Regions from separate parts of the Homo sapiens genome. Here all the other regions are reported to be linked to region 1. Evidence: microRNA targets listed by miRTarBase, many of them from high-throughput screens and not tested one by one. Region 1 holds a microRNA gene; each other region holds the end of a gene's coding sequence.
Evidence for each region. The annotated mature microRNA hsa-miR-335-3p reads UUUUUCAUUAUUGCUCCUGACC and lies in region 1 at 1,109-1,130, opposite strand. An mRNA with a match to its seed (bases 2 to 7 or 8) in the 3' UTR can be bound and repressed. Matches are read on the target gene's strand: a 7mer-m8 pairs with bases 2 to 8, a 7mer-A1 pairs with bases 2 to 7 and ends in A, and an 8mer does both.

Region 2: miRTarBase lists SGO2 as a target of hsa-miR-335-3p. Seed matches in the 3' UTR shown: 7mer-m8 at 2,711-2,717.
Region 3: miRTarBase lists TOB1 as a target of hsa-miR-335-3p. Seed matches in the 3' UTR shown: 7mer-A1 at 2,036-2,042.

Annotation. Positions count from the first base shown.
Region 1 is chr7:130,494,031-130,497,291 of GRCh38, reverse strand. It overlaps MIR335 (microRNA 335), which reads right to left and starts at 1,181; the gene lies at 1,088-1,181. MEST (mesoderm specific transcript) reads right to left here. Exons shown (of 12, transcript NM_002402.4): 2 at 1,770-1,924; 3 at 57-136.
Region 2 is chr2:200,583,008-200,586,268 of GRCh38, reverse strand. It overlaps SGO2 (shugoshin 2), which reads right to left. Exons shown (of 9, transcript NM_152524.6): 9 at 2,173-2,820. The coding sequence ends at 2,805. It overlaps AOX1 (aldehyde oxidase 1), which reads right to left and starts at 255. Exons shown (of 35, transcript NM_001159.4): 1 at 116-255. The coding sequence starts at 160.
Region 3 is chr17:50,860,284-50,863,519 of GRCh38, forward strand. TOB1 (transducer of ERBB2, 1) reads right to left here. Exons shown (of 2, transcript NM_005749.4): 2 at 1,940-3,236. The coding sequence ends at 2,697. Among named protein-coding and RNA genes, the nearest start is that of TOB1, 4.5 kb to the right of the region's middle.

The DNA of each region.
Region 1 (3,261 bases):
GCGCCCGGCCGAGATTTTTTAAGACATAGTAGGACGTAGAAGTCTGACTTCATTACCTTGTACCAGTCGTAGCTGGATGTTGGAAAACCGTGTAAAAGCACAACTATCTCTGGACTTCCAACCACACCCACAGAGTCTAGGAAGAAGGAAAGTACAATCAATTATGCCAAATCCCTATAAAAATAACCTCGAAGATGTTAAAATCTAAGTAATCTGATACAAAGAACAAGCAACTGTGACCAAATTGACATTAAAATGACACAATTATTTGTAAAATGTAAGCTTAACTGCGTTAGGTGAGAACAGGCCTTTTCTCCTTTCAATCTGTATATTAAAACATTGTAAAAATCATGCTATGTGAAAATACTTGAAGGCACCTTGTTTACTTTCACCTAGGTGTTTTTAAACAGCATCTCCCCATTTCTCCTTTTGTTCTGTAATATGCAAATTTTTTCAGTGAAAAGTAAATTTTCAGTTAAAAGCATATGATCACAACACATAAACTACAAATTCTTTGTACTTTATCATGAATGGCCTCACAGAAATTCTCTAAGATACAGCAACTATTCCCAAGGAACACCTTTAGCTTATGCTGTTTGCTCAGCACTTTTTATTCAGCAGGAGACCCAATCTAACATCAAAAACATAATAAAACTATTACAAAATCCTGTCAACTATAAAAAGGGCTTAATCAACATAAACATGAACTTTTTTAATGCATATGACAATATGGAAGCATTCAGCATCATCTAAATTAGGTAAACATTTAGACAATATTAACCTTGCTAATAGTATGGGATTAGAACAGGTATATTCATATACTGCCAGTGACATGAAAATTTGGTAATAAGGTTTTCAAAAATAATTTAGAAGCAGTTAAAAATTGTATATACTTTAGCCTAAGAGTTTTGTTCTTGAGAATCTGTGCAAATAAAATCATTCCATTTATACAAGTAGTATAGTTTGAAAATGTAAGGAAAAAATAAACTGTATGGACATGAAGCTTTTACTTCAACATTAGTTTTCTAAAACAGTAAAACTGGAAGTAACCCAAGCCAACATAATAAAAATTGTATACTTACTTAATTGAATATAGCAAATGAGAGGAGGTCAGGAGCAATAATGAAAAACGGTTTATGACAAACATTTTTCGTTATTGCTCTTGACCCCCGCTCAAAACAAATCATTTCCAATCTGTTTCTCAGTTTCTTCACCTATAAAATGAGGTTAATGGCACCTATCTCCAAATGCTGTTGTAAAGATTAAACAATGAAGGCTGAAAACATAACTCAGTGCCTGGCATATGGTAATTACTTGATAAGTAGTGGTCATAATAATCATCATCACTAGCAAATTAATTTATATAATGGTATCAAGACTTAAATCACAGTTACACTACAAATAATCTACAGAAAAAATGAAATCAGGGATGGTAAGGAGAGAGAACCAATGGTGGTTATATCTATTAATATTTTATATATTACCTGACAGGTTGCTCAAAAAAAAAAAAAAACTAATATTGGAATACATATCAAGCTACAAAGAAAACTTATACTAAAAGGTAAGGTCTGCAGGTTGGAATCTCAGTCCCTACCCCCATTCTCCCAGCAGTTTTCTGCGCTTCTCTGCAAGCACACTACACAGAAAGAGAGAGAGATACTCTCCTCCATCATTAAGGAGCAACAAGAGACCAATAGCCACAAAATAAATACCTCAGCTGGGACTTATGTGACCGATACACGCAGGACTTCCAATAGTCCACTTCTTACCTTGGTAGAAGATACGCAGTCCCTTGTAAGTGAAAAACTTGCCTGAAGACTTCCATGAGTGAAGGGCAGGGGAGAGCTGAGGGGGTGGGATGTGCAGGTACGCAGCAAGCAGGGGCACGGCCAGCAGCCCCACCTGGACCCACCACTCCCTCATCCTGTAGGAAAAGCAGAGACCCACTGTAAGCAGTCAGGTAACATTGTCCACTCATCTACAAACCAAAACCTGGTAAGATGGGGTGGGAGATTGCTGTTACCATGCAATGATTACATTGCCCTTCACATAGGCACAAAGCTGACCGAGACTATAATCAAACCTCTGTCTGCCATAGCACTCACCATATTTGTTCATCATTCTAATCTTAAGGAAAAAAAATACATTATTTCAACATATAATCTTCTGCCTCTGCTCCCCGACTTTAACCCCTTAGCCCCTACCCTTGTGGTCTTCCCAATACCTGCTGAAGAGGACTTTATATAAATAAAAGGGACATGACTTAAATGCTGGACACTCTTTCGTTGACTTTTATCAAGGCTTCCCAGGAAAAAAATAACTTCTTTCTTATTTACTCCAAAAGCTCTACCATCTACCCACTACCCCCAACCAGTAAAATGTTCAAAAAATATATATGTGCTATATCTCATGTTTTAAAGAGTGTGTGTGTGTAGTAACTTATCACATGTCCTCAAGCAGAGAGCTACTCCTGATTTTCAGCCCTCCTGCCTAAATGAAGCCCCATTTAGTACTCCTTTCTGGATTTGGGCTGAGAAACTGCTCAGGGTAAACAGTCTGTGAAAGTAAGATAGCTGCACTGTGTATTCCAACATAAGCAGCTTTGTCATGACCCTGAATATCTAATCTCTTGAGAGGTCAAGGCGGTAGATTACATTTCTGCTTTTCTTAGCAGACTCTTTAAGTTTCCATTTAATTTCCTAAGATGCTCCCCCACCCCCAGATAAGGCATAACTCATACCCAGCGTGTGAGAATTGATTTTGTCTTTGGAAAAAGAGCACTGGTTGGTACACCCAACCCTCCCATGCCCAGGACTTCAAAGGCACAAGTCAGTTTATCCACATTGACAAGGAGTGCCAAACAGGAATTATAAACCGTTCTGTTTCAAGTCTATGACTTCTGATGGTCAACAGATCAAGAATTGTCAGTAGAATGGAAGTTCTCTCAAAACAGCCAGAATGGAAATAATACCCTCCAAAACTAAAATTAGAGTTGTCATAGAGCTGAAATAAATTAATTGCTAAAGCCCTGGGGGAAATGGCTTTCCGTCTGTACACACATTCTTCCCTATTGCCTGTAATCTACCTACCCGTTCGCTAACTTCCTCAACTTACAAGATACTTTTCCCCCCCATATCCCTGATACTTTTTGCTAAAATCTAAAAACAAGCCTGTGGTTTTACAGTGGTAAAATAACCATGTTTCTTAAACAATGTCAGCTCCCCAGGCTATTTTTTAGGCATTATTAGGGCAGTCATTTCT
Region 2 (3,261 bases), not on the chromosome of region 1:
CGTGCCTGAGTGCCTTAAACGGCGGGCACGAAAGGATGGGACGAACGGCAGGGGCTCCTCTCTGCCCCGGCCCTGGCCGCAGGTCTGGGGGCAGAGGAAGCCCGCGGGCGCTCACCTTGCGGCCGTTCACGTAGAAGAGCAGCTCGGACGCCCGGTCCATTGTGGTGTCCGCGCTGGTTCGAGGGCCCGGAGCGGGAGGCGGAGGTTCTGGGAAGTAGCGGGCACCTGGGACCCGGCGGCACCGACCCGCCGAGTGGGGCGGGGCTTGCTGGAGCCTAAAGTCCAACCCATCCACCCCGACGGAGAAAGCCTTGATTAAGATCCAACGTTCCTGAGCTCTTTGCCAGGAACTCTTCCCGGGACACCAGCACGTGTGTGGGCGTCACTGGCGCCCTCTATGTGGGCGGAAATCATCCGGCGAAGATGAAGACGACCCCTTCATCTCCTCGCCAGTGGCGCTTAGCGTCTGTGTCACACCCTCTTGCGTCTTAGCAAACATTGTAAGTCCTGGGACATTGCTTTTGATGGTCTTATGTTACTGCATATTTTAGGTGGTGTTCCAGCTGGATTTAAGTCTGGGAACATTAGTAACTCCCCTCCAACCAGGCCTGCTGTAGTCCTGGACTCTTAAGTGTAAACAATCATATTTATTCCAACTCTGCAAGAGCGGATCTTAGGGAAAACAAATAGGTTTACAACTTGATCTTTTAGAAATATAAGGTTGGTGCAAAAGTAATTGCGGTTTTTACCATCACTTCCAATGGCAACAACTGCAATTAATTTTGCACCAACCTAATAATTACTGGTTTTAAAATGAAGTGCTATCTTGATATAAACTTAAAAATTTTATCACTATTTACAGTTTATCCAGTAACTAACCACAAAGTTTATCTGGTAAATAAGAACAGAGATGTAAAACATCTTGGAAAACTTAAAAAAAAAAACTTGGAAAATACAGCAAAGCATAAAAATAAAGAACACCTGTAAGCCCACAACTTAGAACTTACCACCGTTCACTTTTTTAGTCTATCCTTACTTTTTGAAACATGTACTTTTAACACCTTTAAAAACTTAAGTGGGACAAACTAGTTATTTTCCAGGCTTTTTTCACTTGCCATACCTTAGAACATTTTCCCATGTTATTTCATTTATGTAAACACAAAAATTTTATTGTGAAATTTTCCAAACTTTGCACATAAAAGTGAAGAGTGCAATTGGCATCTACCTGCCCTTCACTGAGCTTTAACAATGGTCAACGTTTTGGCATACTCCATTTTTTGTAGTATTTAAAAGCCAATCCTGGACATATTTTAGCCCTAAATACTTCAAAAACACACATACACATCCTTTTAGTCAGCCGCAACACCATTTCACGTGTCTAAAAAATGTCTTTTACACTTGACTTCTTTGAATCAAACAAGAGCTGTGCAATGTATTTGCATGTGGTCTCATCAGTCTCTTTTGATCTAAAACAGACTTTTTAACACTATTAACACATTGAAAAAGAAACCAGGTCAGTTGTTCTATTGAAATGAACCATTTTTTGAATGTGGCTAATTGCTTCTCCCTGGTATTGTTTTTCTACTCTACTTATTTCCTATGCACTAAATATTAGATCTAAAGCTTTGATTAAATTCAGGTTCAATTTTTTGGGGGGGAGAGGGCAAGAACACTTCATAGGTGGTACCATATAATTAATATTGCAGCACAGCAGGAAGCATATGGTGTCTGGTTGTTTCATTCGTAATGATGCTAACATTGATCAGTGGGTTCAGAGGGCTATTCCTTTGTAATGAATTTCTCCATCAACATTTCACCTAATTGTTTTACATCCATTGTTGAGCATTGCCTGAGCGGTAGTTTTAATAGGGGTTTGCAATTTTTCTAATTCTAGCATTTCTTCTTCATTCATCAACTGGGATTCTTTGAATAAAACTATCCATCCTTCACTAGAGCTATTGACTAAACCCCTCCAGCACTCTGTACCCCCACTGCAGTCTCTCAAAGTGTGGTACTAGGACAATCCTCGGACGGACTCACCTGAAGCATCTGATTAAGATGCAGATTTCTGGGCCCACCGCGTTAGTGGTCAGATATTGTCTAAAAAAGTTTTCCATCTAGGTGGAATAGAGTTTGAGTAGTCATTTGAATTCAATAAACTGTGTATTGATCTCAGATATGAACAGGATTTATTACTACTTATTACTGGAAGAGTAAGTGATCTTTAAAACCAAATTATAAAAACCAAATTCAAAAGAGCCTGAAAGGTTAATCTCCTCCTCTAAGTCATCAGATTACATATAATAGAAATAATACAGAAGCTGACATTCAACATGTATTTCTGAAAACAGAAGAATGAAGGGAGAGAAAACGGGCCAGGGCAGGAGGTGGCTTTTAAACCCTTTTGGATGTCCACATATATTGAATGGGTTAAAAACAGACAGCAAAACAAGACAGCCTAGTATACAAGATAACCAATGCAAAGGTATTTATTAACACATTTTATTTGGTTAAAAGGTTATTGTTTGGTTAAAGGCTACTAGGTAAAAAGAAGCTTAAATAAACAGGAAGGTAAGTTATATGATGACCAAAATGACTCAAAAAGTTTAATGTTACAAAATAGCTATTTTATGCACATATACCTATTAATAAACATTAAGAATGGACAAATCAACACTCCATGAAAGGCCAAAGAAACAAAAAAAAAACCTTTTCATTAAGCATTTCATCTTCTTGATACTATATTTCTGTTTTGATTCCTTATGCTTTGAAAATTCAGAAAAACCAGAATCCATAAATTCACTTCATCTTCTCATCTTGCTGCAAAGTAGAAAAAAAGGAAGATTAATAACAACCCAAAATTAATGCTTTTGCTGTGAAGCATGGAGAAGAAAATTGTTTCATCATATCAGTAGAAAAGAAGTTTCCTTAAACCATAAGCTTTGTTAAATACTTGAAATACTCTAATTTTTCTTAAATCTTATAGTTCTCACTATCAGAGTACTTCAAATAATTCATTTCAAATATTTAAGAAAAATTAATCAACATAGATTTTATATATTACATGTTTATTACATAGTTCCTTTTTGTTAGAAATTTAGCATATGTTCAAGAACATGTGAAAATATACCATTTAAAAACAAAGTAAATGCTCATGTTCCTACACCCAGGTTAAGAAACAAAATATTACCACACCTCCAATATGCCCCTTTCTGATCACAACCCTCTCCTCCCCCAAAAAGGGACCACTATCCTGAATTC
Region 3 (3,236 bases), not on the chromosome of region 1:
TTAGTGCTTGGCTGGGTGTGGTGGCTCACGCCTGTAATCTCAGCATTTTGGGAGGCCAATGCGGGCGGATCACCTTAGTTCAGGAGTTTGAGACCAGCCCAGGCAACGTGGCGAAACCCTGCCTCTACAAAAAATACAAAAATTAGCAGGGAACGGTGGCACGCAGCTATAATCCCAGCTATTCAGGAGAGTGAGACAGGAGAATCGCTTTAGTGGAGGTTGCAGTAAGCCAAGATGGCCCCTTTGCACTCCAGCCTGGGTGACAGAGTGAGACCTTGTCTCAAAATAAAATGAATATATTAGTGCTCCAGACAGTTTCAAATTCTATTGTTGACCAGGCGCAATGGCTCATGCCTGTAATCAGAGCACTTTGGGAAGCCAAGGCAGGCAGCTCATTTGAGGCCAGGAGTTCGAGACCAGCCTGGTCAACATGGTGAAACCCCGTCTCTACTAAAAATACAAAAATTAGCCAACATGGTGGCGGGCGCCTGTAGTCTCAGCTACTCGGGAAGTTGAGGCAGGAGAATCACTTGAACCTGGGAGGTGGAAGGTTGCAGTGAGCCGAGATGGTGCCACTGCACTCCAGCCTGGGTGACAGAGCAAGAGACTCCGTCTCAAAAAAAAAAAAAATTCTATTATGTTCCGTCCAGCTGCCTTATGATTTTCAGAAAAAGCACATTACACTTGAGCCTTCATTTATAAGTAGAGTTTTCTCCCAAATGTAACTTTATCAGTCTGTAGCAGAAACTAGTGCTTAAAGCCATTATCCTGATGGTTCTTACAGCTATTCAAACTTCGTGATCACAAAAGCATGTAAGTGGTAAGTGTTGGCAGACCAGATCTCTGCTGCTTGCACCCATTATTCCAATACTTCTTCATAGCCTCGTTCTGTTCCCTAAAGAACAAAAGCCTCACCATGGAGCTGACAAACAGCTTAGCTCTGTTATTTCCAGTGCTTGTTTCCTTAAAACTTTGTATTGCTCTACACTGCATGGGTAAATGACAAAAGGCTTTTGTAGACTGGTGTCCAAAAAGCTCATGAGACCAAATTTATTTCACTGGTAACCCAGGCAGTGCTGGTTTCTTACTATAAAAGTACATATAAAGTTTTTTAAGACAGCTTTCTCACCAATACTATGTCAACACTGTATCAAATGGACGTTAACTTTCTCACCAATACTATGTCAATACTGTATCAATTGACATTTAGTGAAATGACTCATTTAGTGTTCTTCTCCCCAACTCTTCAGTTTTAAAAAACTCCATCCTCACCAAGCCACTCCAATTTGATACATTGTCAATATCTCTAAATCCTTCAAACCAGCAGGTTGGGTACCCACTTGCAAAAAATTAAATACATAAGCGTTTTTGCTGGGAAAATGAAAATGCTAACATCTAACCATCTGTCCAGCCGTGAATAGATTTTGACCATAAGTTCTCTAGCTATATGCAATAGCTAAACTTTAAAGATTAGTAAAGTGATGTAAATTTTTCTAAGTTCAGTCAGCCGTTTTGTCCAAGCAAGTTTCCTCAGCAAAAACAGAAAACTGATCCAATGCTCTCTCCATATAAATTTCAAATAAATCATCTCAGATTACACGAAGGAATTTCATCTTATCACCTGACTCCTCCATGTCAGCATGACATTTTGAAACTTGCTGTATAGCTAACCTTACCATACCATCTCTATAATGGGGTAGACAAATGTGGACTGAAGAGGGCTGTTAAAAAATAAAGTTGTACCAAGCACTGGTCAGGCTATAGTTTTGATAGCATTTTTTATGTGGCAAACCACGATCTGGTACATCAGTAGAGCAACTGCTTTCCATTATTCCTTCGTGACTCAATGAGTCAGGCCTTTTTCCATCATTAGCATTTACAACATAATAACTCCAGAGGTCGATCTTCAGAAAACACTTAAAAACAAAGACAATAGGCATTTTTAATTTTAAAGAATTTTAATACAAACTTAATATAAACTATTTCAGTCCCTCTTAACATGTAAGACACTGACTCAAAATACTTTTATACCGTTTTTTTCAAGTATTGCACAATATAGGTACAAAATTAATATTTACGATTACATTTTTCTTCCATAATATATAGCAAAAATCTTTAAACTTTTAACAGAAAATACATTTTTTTGAAAAAGCAAGTATTCGTACATTTTAATTCCACCACTAAAGGAATATCCTGTACACAATTTTTAGAATAGTTGATGTCTTTAAGATGGATATTTTACAATTTCAGTAAAAAAAATACAACATGAAGCTGCTGCTGTCACAGATCACTGTAGTAAAAAGATATAAATGCAATACCATGTCGTAGAAACAATATATATATATCCTCTGATATTTTACAAACTTTGTACTAAATTAAATTATACAATTAGAAAAGACCAATAAACCCACTTATTAGTGCCAATTTTTATAAAAAAAAATCAGCCATGTCCTTGCTATATCTTAAATACTGTAAGAGGCCATATCTGAGAGTATACTTTAAAATATACAGTCAGTATAAAATAACTTTGTGCTTGGTTGGCAAATGAAAAATGATGCATGTTTTATTATTATTTTTTTAACCAAGCTTGAATGTATCCTTACTATAAGCTTAAAAAAAAAAATTCTCAAGGAGGTGAAAAAAAAAATCCCCCTTGGGCCCGTGCATTTTAACTTGTACGATACATTTTCTTTTTTTTAGTTAGCCATAACAGGCTGGAATTGCTGGTTAGAATACTGCATGTTATTTAAGCTAAAATTCAAGCCATCTACAAAAGATTTCTCATTGAGGCCTCCATAGGCTGCAAACACATCAAAGGCATTACTGTACTGGAGAGGACTGAGGTTAAGGGGGCTGTCACCTGGGAACATTCCATTGGTACTACTACCTTGACCCTGCATATTAGGAAAAATAAATTCCTTGGCATTAGGAGAAAGAGCAGAGGTTTTCTGCTGTTGTTGCTGCTGTGGTGGTGGTGGTGGCGGTGGCGGCTGGGCTGGCTGCTGCTGTTGCTGTGGCTGCTGCTGGCTACCCAAGCCAAGCCCATACAGAGAGTGCATTGAGGAAGAGATGGCTTTCTGCTTCAAGAGGTCATTCACATTCAAGCCGAGGTTGATGGGAGAAGTACGTGCAACCTTGTTGCTACGGCCACTATTCTTCATTTTGGTAGAGCCGAACTTGGTGGCAGCAAAAGTGGCAGTGGTAAAGGTTAAAGGCTGAGTGGACCGGGGCATGAA